Regions from separate parts of the Homo sapiens genome. Here region 2 is linked to region 1. Evidence: fine-mapped expression QTL. A gene starts in region 1. The other region holds a variant in brackets. All regions are shown on one strand. Distances are between the middles of the regions.

The links. PIP is the estimated chance that this variant, and not a neighbour inherited with it, causes the effect.
Region 2: its variant is the best candidate, but not a certain one, in a credible set for the expression of SLC38A12 in tibial artery (GTEx, PIP 0.58).

The regions. Positions count from the first base shown.
Region 1 is chr17:74,773,585-74,778,954 of GRCh38, reverse strand. SLC38A12 (solute carrier family 38 member 12) reads right to left here and starts at 2,456. Exons shown (of 10, transcript NM_017728.4): 1 at 2,378-2,456; 2 at 1,580-1,691. The coding sequence starts at 1,624. NAT9 (N-acetyltransferase 9) reads left to right here and starts at 2,610. Exons shown (of 7, transcript NM_015654.5): 1 at 2,610-2,688; 2 at 3,248-3,333; 3 at 5,267-5,370. The coding sequence starts at 3,257. RefSeq lists an enhancer at 2,809-2,928.
Region 2 is chr17:74,800,574-74,805,943 of GRCh38, reverse strand. The region is part of intron 8 of SLC38A12 (solute carrier family 38 member 12); the gene reads right to left. Among named protein-coding and RNA genes, the nearest start is that of SLC38A12, 27 kb to the right of the region's middle. The variant A/G (reference allele first, on the strand shown) is at 1,939.

The DNA of each region.
Region 1 (5,370 bases):
GGCTCACGGCTGTAATCCCAGCACTTTGGGAGGCTGAGGCGGGTGGATCACCTGAGGTCAGGAGTTCAAGACCAGCATGACCAACATGGTGAAACCCTGTCTCTACTAAATACAAAAAATTAGCTGGGCAGGGTGGTGCATGCCTGTAGTCCCAGCTACTTGGGAGGGTGGGGCAGGAGAATTGCTTGAACCTGGGAGGCAGAGGTTGAACCTGGGAGGCAGAGGTTGCAGTGAGCCGAGATTGCACCATTGCACTCCAGCCTGGGCAACAAGAGTGGAACTCTGTCTCAAAAAAAAAAAAAAAAAAAAAAAAAAGACTTCCCCTGAGAAATTACACAGGTGATGGGTGAAGAAGGCTCCTTTATTGCCACACATGAATGGCACAGGCCCAATAGGAAGACTCTGGAATCAGGAAGGCTTTCTTCCAGCTGTGAAGGAAATGTCTTGGAGACACTTCCTTGTCCATCACACCACAATGCTAGTCTGTGAAGCTAGCAGAAACAGACCAGAGATCCCCAGGCTAGGAAGCTATGTACAAGGCAGGGCAGCTGTTGAAGGCAGGTCAAGTTCTAGAAAACTCTTGCTACTTAGGGCAGTGCTGCTTTTGCCTGGGAGGGTTGGTAGCAACCTGAGTCAACCATCTGATTATTCCAACCCTCTGGCTACTTATCCAGGCAAGAGGGCCCTGTGATGTAACAACTATGACCAATCATACGTTACATAGAGAAGATAAACTGCGTGTGTGTTGGGGGCAGCCAGAGGTAACACAGACCTAAGACAGTGAGAATCAATCATTCTAATTGTTCTAATTGCAGAGTCCACCAAACTGTAATTAGAAGTCTCTGTATGCTTTCGCTGCTTCTTACGCCATCCAAGACTATAAAAGTTGTGCAATTTAAAATTCAGTAAAGACCAAAGCGGTTTCCAACTGCTGAGATGAGCAAAACCCAGAGTCAACAGCTGTCAATCACTGTTCATCTGAAGGGCAGCACTGCAGGCAAGTGTGGTAGCCTGGAGATGAACATTATTTCTTTATTTTTGAGACAGAGTTTCGCTCTTTTTGCCCAGGCTGGAGTGCAACGGCTCGATCTCAGCTCACTGCAACGTCCGCCTCCCGGGTTCAAGCGATTCTCCTGCCTCAGCCTCCCGAGTAGCTGGGATTACAGTGCCACCATGCCCGGCTAATTTTGTATTTTTAGTAGAGACAGGGTTTTACCATGTTGGCCAGGCTGGTCTTGAACTCCTGACCTCAGGTGATCTGCCCGCTTCAGCCTCCCAAAGTGCTGGGATTACAGGCGTGAGCCACCGTGCCCAGCCCGGGATTAACATTATAAACAGCATGGCGATTTTGTTTGGCTTGACCACTCTGACAAACACCTTAAAAAGAGAATAAATCTGACTTACATTCTGAGCCACCACAGCAGCACTGTAGTCGCTGCCCCATGGAACTCCCCCATCCTGCTTCCACTATGGTCTGCTCAAGCAGCAGCACTCACTAGTCCCATCTCCAGCAAGCAATGTGCTTTTCTAGAAGCCAGGAACACTTAAGTGAGCAAAAGGTTCTATAAGTCACACTCACGTAGGAAGAGTAGAGTTCCCCGGTCTCTGTAATTTCACCCGCCATTTCCAAAAGTGAGGAAGGGCTGGCAGCAGAGGTTCCTTAGGTGCAAGGACGGCGGCTGCCGCAGCTCCTTAAAACAAAAGAGCAGGCTTCACCTATCTGATGGACTGAGACAGGGGTGGGAGGAGGCTTGCAGACTTCCCCTGCCACCTCTGGTTCTTTTATCACAGACACTTAGGGCCTCAGTATCTGTCACAAGACTCACCCCCGAGGGAGGGGTCACCCTGGATGACAGAAATCTGGACGGTTTCTTCTAACATTTCCCTTGCTGTGCAGGGCACTGCTCTGTGCCCAGCACGGATGTTTTCAATGCTGCTCGGGGTGCAAGTGATTTAAGGGGCCTCTAAAACCACTAAGTCTCACCCACCACAAGAGCCCCCTTTCCACGCTCTGGGGTGGTTATCCTCGTTTAGTTCCAGGAACCAGGAGCTCACTACCACACATGGGAGCCCAAGGAACTGTCTGCCGCCTCTGCCTAGGGCAGGGAGCTGGGGGCTTTCCTACATTGCCCTTCCAACTCCACTCTTGGCACTAAGGCCTCCTTTTTTTAATGGGGCCTCCACTCCCTGGCCCCACCTACTCTCTTAGGGTTCCCCACCCTCAAAGCTCCCTCTTTTCTCAAGAACCCCACTCCCAGCCTCTCCCTCTCTCTCCCTCCTGGAGGAGTCCCGAGTCTAGTGCCGCCCCGCCCCGCCCCAACCTATCCCGACCCGTCTCGTCCTCTCCCGCCCGTCCCGACCCGACCCGACCCAACACCTGCAGCACAGCCAGCTCCCAAGCCGCCGTCTCCCGCCGGTCCGCTGCTGCCGGCGCCAGCTGTCCAGCACCAGCTTCCGCAGCGCGCATGCGCCGGCCCCACAGCCCACCTTTTTCGCGCGCGCTGATTGGGCGCCTCGCGGGGGCGGGACCGGGATTGGGGCCTGGCGGCTGCCGTCAGCATGGCGGAAGTGGGCGGGGCGCGTTCTCACGCGCATGCGGAAGGGGCGGTAGCCGGCCGGGCCTGGGAACGTGGCTGGTTGGAGGAGGTAGATCACCCTTTCTGCGGGGGACGATTTCGTCGGTGGTAGGTGGGTGTGAGCTTGGCAGTACCCGGGTCCGCGTGGTTGGAGGGTCGAAGAGAGTGGTCTAGAACGCCACTCAAAGGGGAGGGCCTAAGACTAAGCCCGCCTTGCCCTGAAGTGGTCGGGGGCGGGGAGGGAGTGGCTAGAGCCCCGTGGGGTGGTCGCCGGGGTAAGAGGTTGGAAGTAGGTTTAAGGCAGGGCTGAAAGTTGATTCTGGGTTGGAATCCCTGGACTGGGGCAAGTAATGGGAGCTCTGGGGATACTTTGGTACTTGGTACTTGGTGCTTGGGTTTGAGGAATCGAAGTTCTGGGGAGTGGACGGAAGGAACCGGCAGAAACGGAGCCCAGGCTTGGCCTCTTGGAGTGGGAGTCAAGGATTGTTTAATTATCCTTAACCAGCCTGGTTCTCTTTCTTGCAAGAATTTTGGAGTCTGTATTCTTTGAAGTGTCTAGACGGAACTAATGACGGAAGTCAACTTAGCCCCAGCAGGAAAGCTGGAGCGCCTACCCAAAGTTGGAGGAAATTCAGGGTCCTGAAGTCTTTGCTCTCCCCATCTGCATGCAGGCTGCTACCATGAGGTTGAATCAGAACACCTTGCTGCTGGGGAAGAAGGTGGTCCTTGTACCCTACACCTCGGAGCATGTGCCCAGGTATCTTTCCCGCTTGACATGGGGTGCGTATCAGCACCCAGAGCTGTGTAAGGTACAGCCCCAGTCTCAGGGCTATTTCCCCTAAGAAGAAACATTGGTTGTGAGAAATAATTATATATGAGGGGGGAAAAAAGGCTGGGTGCCGTGGCTCACGCCTGTAATTCCAGGACTTTGGGAGGCTGTGGCAGGAGGATTGCTTGAGCCCAGCAGTTCGAGACCAGCTTGGGTAACGTAGCGAGACCTTGTCTCTACAAAAAAATACAAAAATTAGCCAGGCATGGTGGTGCACAGCTGCAGTCCCAGCTACTAGGGAGGCTGAGGTGGGAGGATTGCCTGAGCCCAGGAGATGAAGACTGCTGTGAGCTGTGATTGTACCACTGTACTCCAGCCTGGGTGACAGAGCAAGAACCTGTCTCAAAAAAAAACAAAAAAAACAAAAAAACAAAAACAAACAAAAACAAAAAAACGGCCGGGTGCGGTGGCTCACGCCTGTAATCCCAGCACTTTGGGAGGCTGAGGCGGGTGGATCATGAGGTCAGTAGTTCAAGACCAGCCTGGCCAACATGATAAAACGCCATCTCTACTAAAAACACAAAAAATTAGCTGGGCTTGTTGCCCGGCACCTGTAATTCCAGCTACTTGGGAGGCTGAGGCAGGAGAATCACTTGAACCAGGGAGGTGGAGGTTGTGGTGAGCCGAGATCACACCACTGTACTCCAGCCTGGGCAACAGAGTGAGACTTTGTCTCAAAAATAAAATAAAATAAAATAAAGGCTGGGCGCAGTGGCTCACGCCTGTAATCCCAGCACTTTGGGAGACCGAGGCAGGCGGATCACAAGCTCAGGAGAGCGAGACCATCCTGGCTAACATGGTGAAACCCCGTCTCTACTAAAAATACAAAAAAATTAGCCGGATGTGGTGGCGGGCGCCTGTAGTCCCAGCTACTCGGGAGGCTGAGGCAGGAGAATGTGTGAACCCGGGAGGCGGAGCTTACAGTGAGCCGAGATCGCGCCACTGCACTCCAGCCTGGGTGACAGATCGAGACTCCGTCTCAAAAAAAAAAAAAAAAAGAGACCAGCCTGATCAACGTGGAGAAACCCCGTCTCTAATAAAAATACAAAAAAAATAGCTGGGCATGGTGGCACATGCCTGTAATTCCAGCCTGGGCAACAAGAGTAAAACTCTGTCTCAAAAAAAAAAAAAAAAAAAATAGCAGAACCTGGGGACTGTGACTTCCTTGGGAGGAGCTGCCCATCCTCTTCCCTTTCATTCTCTCAGCTTTTTGGCCTTTCAGCAAGGAATTGCTTTATGTAAACTAAACGTGGAAGAAAAAGAAATTGTCTTCTCACCTAATTGTAAATTAGTGATGTTTCCCTGGTGCCAGTGAGTATGTTCAGTTCTTGGAGACTTAATGTTAGCTTGTCCTTGAACTCTGAGCTGATGAGTTGTGATATCTACCATTCAAAAGGCCAGGACTGAGTCATGATGGGATTCCTGTGGGGGCAGTTGGCACATGTCTGGTAGATTGGGATAGTGGTGCTGTAGATGGGTATTCTCTACTTGTAGTTTTCCGTTTGAGGGTTCCTGGTGCCCTAACTTCGTGGGATCTGTCCAGCCGCCTTTGTTGAGGTTGGCTTGCCATATACATCCCCTTCTGGAATTTGAAGAATGTTTGGTTTCAGACTGCTCCTCCGCACTGACCCGAGACAGGATAGGAAATTGGACAGATAGAACTGACTCGTCCTGCTGTTCTTGTGTAAGACTAGCTTGCTTCTGGGTCTTGTGTCTGTGGCCCCTGCCTTAGGAGCAATCATAACCCTTTGGGTCTTCTTTGAGCCCTATGTTAGCCCTGTCTGGTTCTGGACCCTCATAAGGTGTCAGACGTATGCCTCTGAATGAGTCCTCCATGTCTAAAGCCACCCCTCTGTCCCAGCAGGTACCACGAGTGGATGAAATCAGAGGAGCTGCAGCGTTTGACAGCCTCGGAGCCGCTGACCCTGGAGCAGGAGTATGCCATGCAGTGCAGCTGGCAGGAAG
Region 2 (5,370 bases), 27 kb before region 1:
CTGTCAATCCCCCGCCCTGCCCTGGGAACAGGAGGAGGCAGTGCCATCGCCCTCTGTTGCCCGGAGCTTGTGCGTCACTCAAGGAGAGGTGCCAGGCGATCACTTGAGATGCTCTCGGCATCTTCCCTTCCTCGGTCCATGCTCTCGGCGCAGGAAGAGCAATGGCAGTGGGAACGCTCCAGCAGGAGCTGGAGGAAGCAAGGGAGGGAAGTCAGGTGCCCAGAACACGGGTGCCCTGCAGAGAGGGCTGCACAGGCCCAGCTGGCTCCACCCCTTTTCTGCTGACGTCTGGCCTTGAAATAGACCGGGAACTGAGTAACCTTGGAGGCGGGACGGAGGGGAGATGGCATATCAAGCTGGCTGATTAATGAGCTCTCTTGAAGCGGGTTTGAGAAGTGACATCAGCAAGCCCCCAGCTTCCTCCCTAGTCGGGGGTCAGAGTGAGATGCCCTCTCCGGGGAGCTGGCACGCTGCGGGGTCTAGAGCCCCCAACCAGCAGCTTCAGAGGAAGCTACAGGGGAAGCCTAGAGCACCACCCGCTAGGGACATGGGAGGTACCCGTCAGCCGCAAGTGACAAAGCAGCCTCCAGCCAGTGGGCACGCACAGCCCCTCTTCTCTCTGGCAGTGCCTTAGGTGTGGACTCCAGGATGTGGCAGCACCTGTAGGTTGCCCAGCCCCTCTCCTTTCCCTGCAAAAGGCAGGCACGGGAAGCCCTTGACAGCTGCCTCCACCATGGTGCTGTGGGAAGCAGTTCCTGAAGGAAGACCAGAGTAGGCCTCTCCCCGGGAGACCTTTTACTACCTCGACAGATCTGCGCCAGCAGGATTTCTCAAAGGGAAAAGCACACAGAATTCTCCTCAGAACTGGTTGAAAATGCGGATTCCTGGGCCCTGTGGCCTTCGAATATACTGCATCAGGCCTGGCGCAGGACCCAAGCATCTACATTTTTATTAAGAGCCCGAAGGCACTCTTGTGCCAGTGGTCAGGCAACCAGATCTTGAGAAACACTTTCCTGATCCAGGGGAAAGGGACCAGCTGGGAAGTGTTCCCAGAGACTGTTCACCTGCCTCTCAGGTGAAGCACAGCCTCCCTGCAGTAGTGTGGGAGAAGGCGCCAGAACTGGACATTACAGACCGCAGGGGCCTCCCGGCCTCAGCCAGTGCCCAACACCCAATACCAGTCCCTGCATTCTCTTCCCATCAAGGTGTTCAGAAAATGTCTCAATCCATGGTTGAAGGAAGTTCTTGCCATTGCCAAACTACACATGCCCTGCGGTGGCTCAAGACCCTTCTAGAGTCACACTCACATGGGGTATCTGCTGCCACACCCCCAGTGCCTCCTTTTGTGCCTGAGGCTTATGAAAATGTTCCTTGGTCCACTGTCAGCGAATCCACAAGACATCCGGGCTTATGCTAATTCATCCGATATCATCATTAATGTGCACCCTAATCGTTCAGCTCTGTGTAAGGGCCATCATAGCCGAGTCCCTCGCACCTCTCTGCTGGCTGTAAACCCTCTGGGGTTCTGTGGCTCCTCTCCTCAGGGCCAGGGTGCACTGCACAGCGCACACTCAGCTATTTCTTCTCTGCACACAGGTGCTGCTTTTGAGCCAGTGTGCAGGGCCAGCACCGCTGGCTGGGACACTGGCCACACGAAGGATCACGGCTATTACTTTTGAGTGAGTGCTTTATTTAATTAAACAATTACTGCTAGGGCCCTGGGGCGCTATATAGAAAGACATCAGGCTCTGCTTATGATACACACCCTGTAACAGAGCAAGCATCATTCAGGGAATAGCACAGCCTCACAAAACTTGGCAGGGCCACCACAAATGCCACAGACTGATCTACAGGATAAAAGGAGCAGCCAGACACGGAGCAGAAGACAAACAGTTTGGCATATACAGTTTTCATTTTAGTTAGCACAAAATATTGAAG[A/G]ACATTCCATGTTACTCTCAAACTACTGGGAGGTTGCTAGATTCCACAGACTATGGAGTTTTTTGACACTTTTATTTTGTGAAATGAAGAAAAAAATAAAAAATAAAAAAGGTGGCAGGGAGAGATCTGAAATCAACAACTGGGATGTACTCTTAACAGATATAATAAAAACTATTTTTAGTTCTTTGCCCAGAAATGGGAGTTCTGGAAGCAGCGGGGTGCACAGTGTGGGATGGACTGGGCTGTTGAGCTTTGGGAGTCTGCCCGGGGCTCAGCTTCTCGAGGGGAATGACTGGAAATGCATGTGCACGCACAGGTCAGTGGCCAGGATCAGCCCAGGTGGCTTGGGAAGTGAGGCACACCGGGTTTTTATCCCTGACTGCACCACTCACAAACAAGGAGGGCTTAGGCCTCGGGCTCGGGGTCTGACTGGGATCAGGATGAGACCTGCAAAGAAACGGTCCTGAAAAAGCTCAGCGCAGAAGGTCCCCAGCAGGGATGGATACTCCCCCACTGAGCCCTGCCTGGAAGCTTCCCAACCAAATTGGCCTGTGCACAGGTGTGGGGCTCGGGTATATACTTATCAAGCTCCGCGGAGCTCTCCCAGCTCAGGGATGTGGATGGGGAGAGGGGAAGGGGAATCGCTGGTTACTGCTTTCAGGTGGGCTGCCTATGATGTCCACCCCAAGCCCTGCCTGCCTGTTTCTCCAGCAACATCAACCGGGCTTTGGGGTTCTGCACCTTTGCCTATGAATACACGGATATCTCCCTTTACACAAGAGAAGGGCTCCTGAAGTTCTTTTACAAATGCTTAATTTTCACAGAACAACATTTAAATACACTAGGGAAACTGAGTACTTAAGAGAAATCTGAAGCAAATCCTTCTGTAAAGTAAGGAATCACTTTGTAACAAGTAACTACCCTCCCAATTTATTTCATACCTTTGGATTTTCATATAATGGGGTTCCTAGGAGTTAAGAATGCTGGGTGTGTGTGGGTCAAGGTCATGGCAACAGATCATTTCCCATCTCCATTCACTTCCTGGGGGAATTGGTGAATGGGGGTGGGGTGAGGGATGAGCAACCAGGTAAGTTACACTGCCGTTTTCCCCACGTGCCCGGGAGTAAACCTGGCTTGCTGCGGGTAGGAAGTCTTTGCAAGGCTATACTCATTATTTTACAGACAATGGAGATGGGGTAAAGAAATATGGTTTAGGCTAAGCACCCCAAATCCAAAATTCCAACACCTGAAATGCTCCAAAATCTGAAACTTTTTGAGCACTGACACGATCCTCAAAGGAAATGCTCACTGGAATATTTTGGATTTTTGAATTTAAGATGCTCTACTGTGAGTATAATGCAGATATTCTAAAAATCTGAAGAAAATCTGAAATCAGAAACGCTTCTGGTCCCAAATATTTTGGGGAAGGGATACCCAACCTGCACATTCTACCAGGGCCAGAGACACCCAACTGTCATGCTGTGAAGGGGGCTATGTCGGTCACCAGCTTAGAAGCAAGAACATAAGACCCTGTCACCCCTCAGGACCTTGACAGAGGCCCATGAGCAGCTTCCGAGCTGGGTAAGGGAGTGGTAGGGAGAAGAAGCCACTGCCTGCTGCTTTGTGACACTGAGTCCCCCAGTCTGGCACCTGTACTGAGACCATAGAGGCGGTGGCACGGGGGACTAGGCATCATCCTCTCAACTGGCGCATAGGTATTGGCCAAGGTGGGGACAGGTCATAGGTCGTGGGGCATGATGGATGGTGGGCATAATGCCAGTCAACCGAACCCACGTCCCTGAGAGTGACATTAAAAACAAAAACAGCAACCCTCTCCCTGAGCAGGAGGAGAAAGCATGGGCACTGGGGATGAGGGTGGAGGAGGCAGTCACAGGGTGACTCAGGGAGGCGTCACCCAGGTGTCCTCAGCAAGGTGAAGGGACAGGCTGGAGCAACTCCGGGAAGAAAGGAGGGACAGGGGCCGTGCTCAGACAGGAGCAGCAGTGGCGGAGGAATGGGTGGGGTGGTGGGGGTTCACGCTGTCCCTGGCTAGGAGCTAGAGAGACAAGCTGCAGTGTGGGAGTGAGTGACAGGCAACCTGAATTTCATTTAGGGAGGGCTGGGGTAGGGGGATGGAAAGCACACGGAAGACAAGAAGCCATTCCTGGTCTAAGATATATAGACAGCTCCTAGGGAAAAAAAGCAAGCAAGCAAGAACAACACAGGCCTGTCCCTGTATTATTGATTTCCTTGAAAAAGAAAGAGACAAGCTAATCCTTTGAGGTCACCATTTCAGCCTGAGCGCAGTCGCTGTCTGAAGTTAGAGTTCACCCAGGTTAGACTCCCAGCTCTGCTTGGGTGGCGGGTACGGGCACGCACATTTTTGGGGTGCGGGGAAGAAACACATTCTTCCTTGACACCCAGTCTCACGGGATGACTGCAGAAGGCTCAGCATGTGTGGGACAAACAGGACCTGGCACATGCATCTCAGGGGCTCACAACCCCACACCAAAGCTGGCTGAAGACACCTCAAAGGCTCAGCATATGTGGGACAAACAGCACCCGGGACATGCATCTCAGGGGCTCACAACCCCACACCAAAGCTGGCTGAAGACACCTCGAAGCCTCACCGAGTCCAGCTCCTGGTGGTGGTGGGCACGGGTTAGAACGACTGCACGCAGTGCACCTGCGGTGCCACCAGGTGTGACGGACATCTCTCCATAGGCGAGAGGGGAGGAAAAGGTGAAAGGCAAAACAAACCCGACCTTTCTAGAGTCTCCAGAACTGAATGAGGAGGAACTGACAAGAGGTGCGTTGGGAGGGAGAAGAAAAGGAAAGGAGAGAAGATGGGCTTCCCGGGTCACCCCAGTGAGCCCCTACATGGTCGCCATCCTATAAAGGAGGCACTTGGATGTCCCCGACCCTGGAAGCAACACCCTTCCCCCTCCAGGCGTCCTGGAGTCTCCTCCTGACTCGTCTTGGTTTGGTGTGAGGCTGAGTCCTAACTCACGTGAACCACATGAGAGGGTGGATGTTGCCCAGGAAGGGACACTCTTGACAGGCTGTCTGCTTTCTGGGCTGAGGGTCCTGCATTCCGTTTCTAGACGGGCCAACCCACTAGACTCCTAAACAGAGACAGCTTGCTTATCCTGTCCACTTTCTTGCCAGGCCCTCCCCAGGCCACCTTTCCTGTTTGACTGCACTTCACTCAATCCCGGGCTGGACGCTGCATAAACTCGGGGGCAGTGTTCACTGTGTTCTACTGGAGTTGTGCCCTGGGGGCACCACTGACGTTGAAAGCAACAAGAGTGGTGCCTGGGAGGCAGGCGGCACAGTGTCCCCAGAGTCTCCAAGTCCAGTGAAGTCACTGCTGCTCCTCAAACTTGTTGCTTCACTAATTTTCCTTCCTCACTGGTCCTGAAGGCCTCTAAG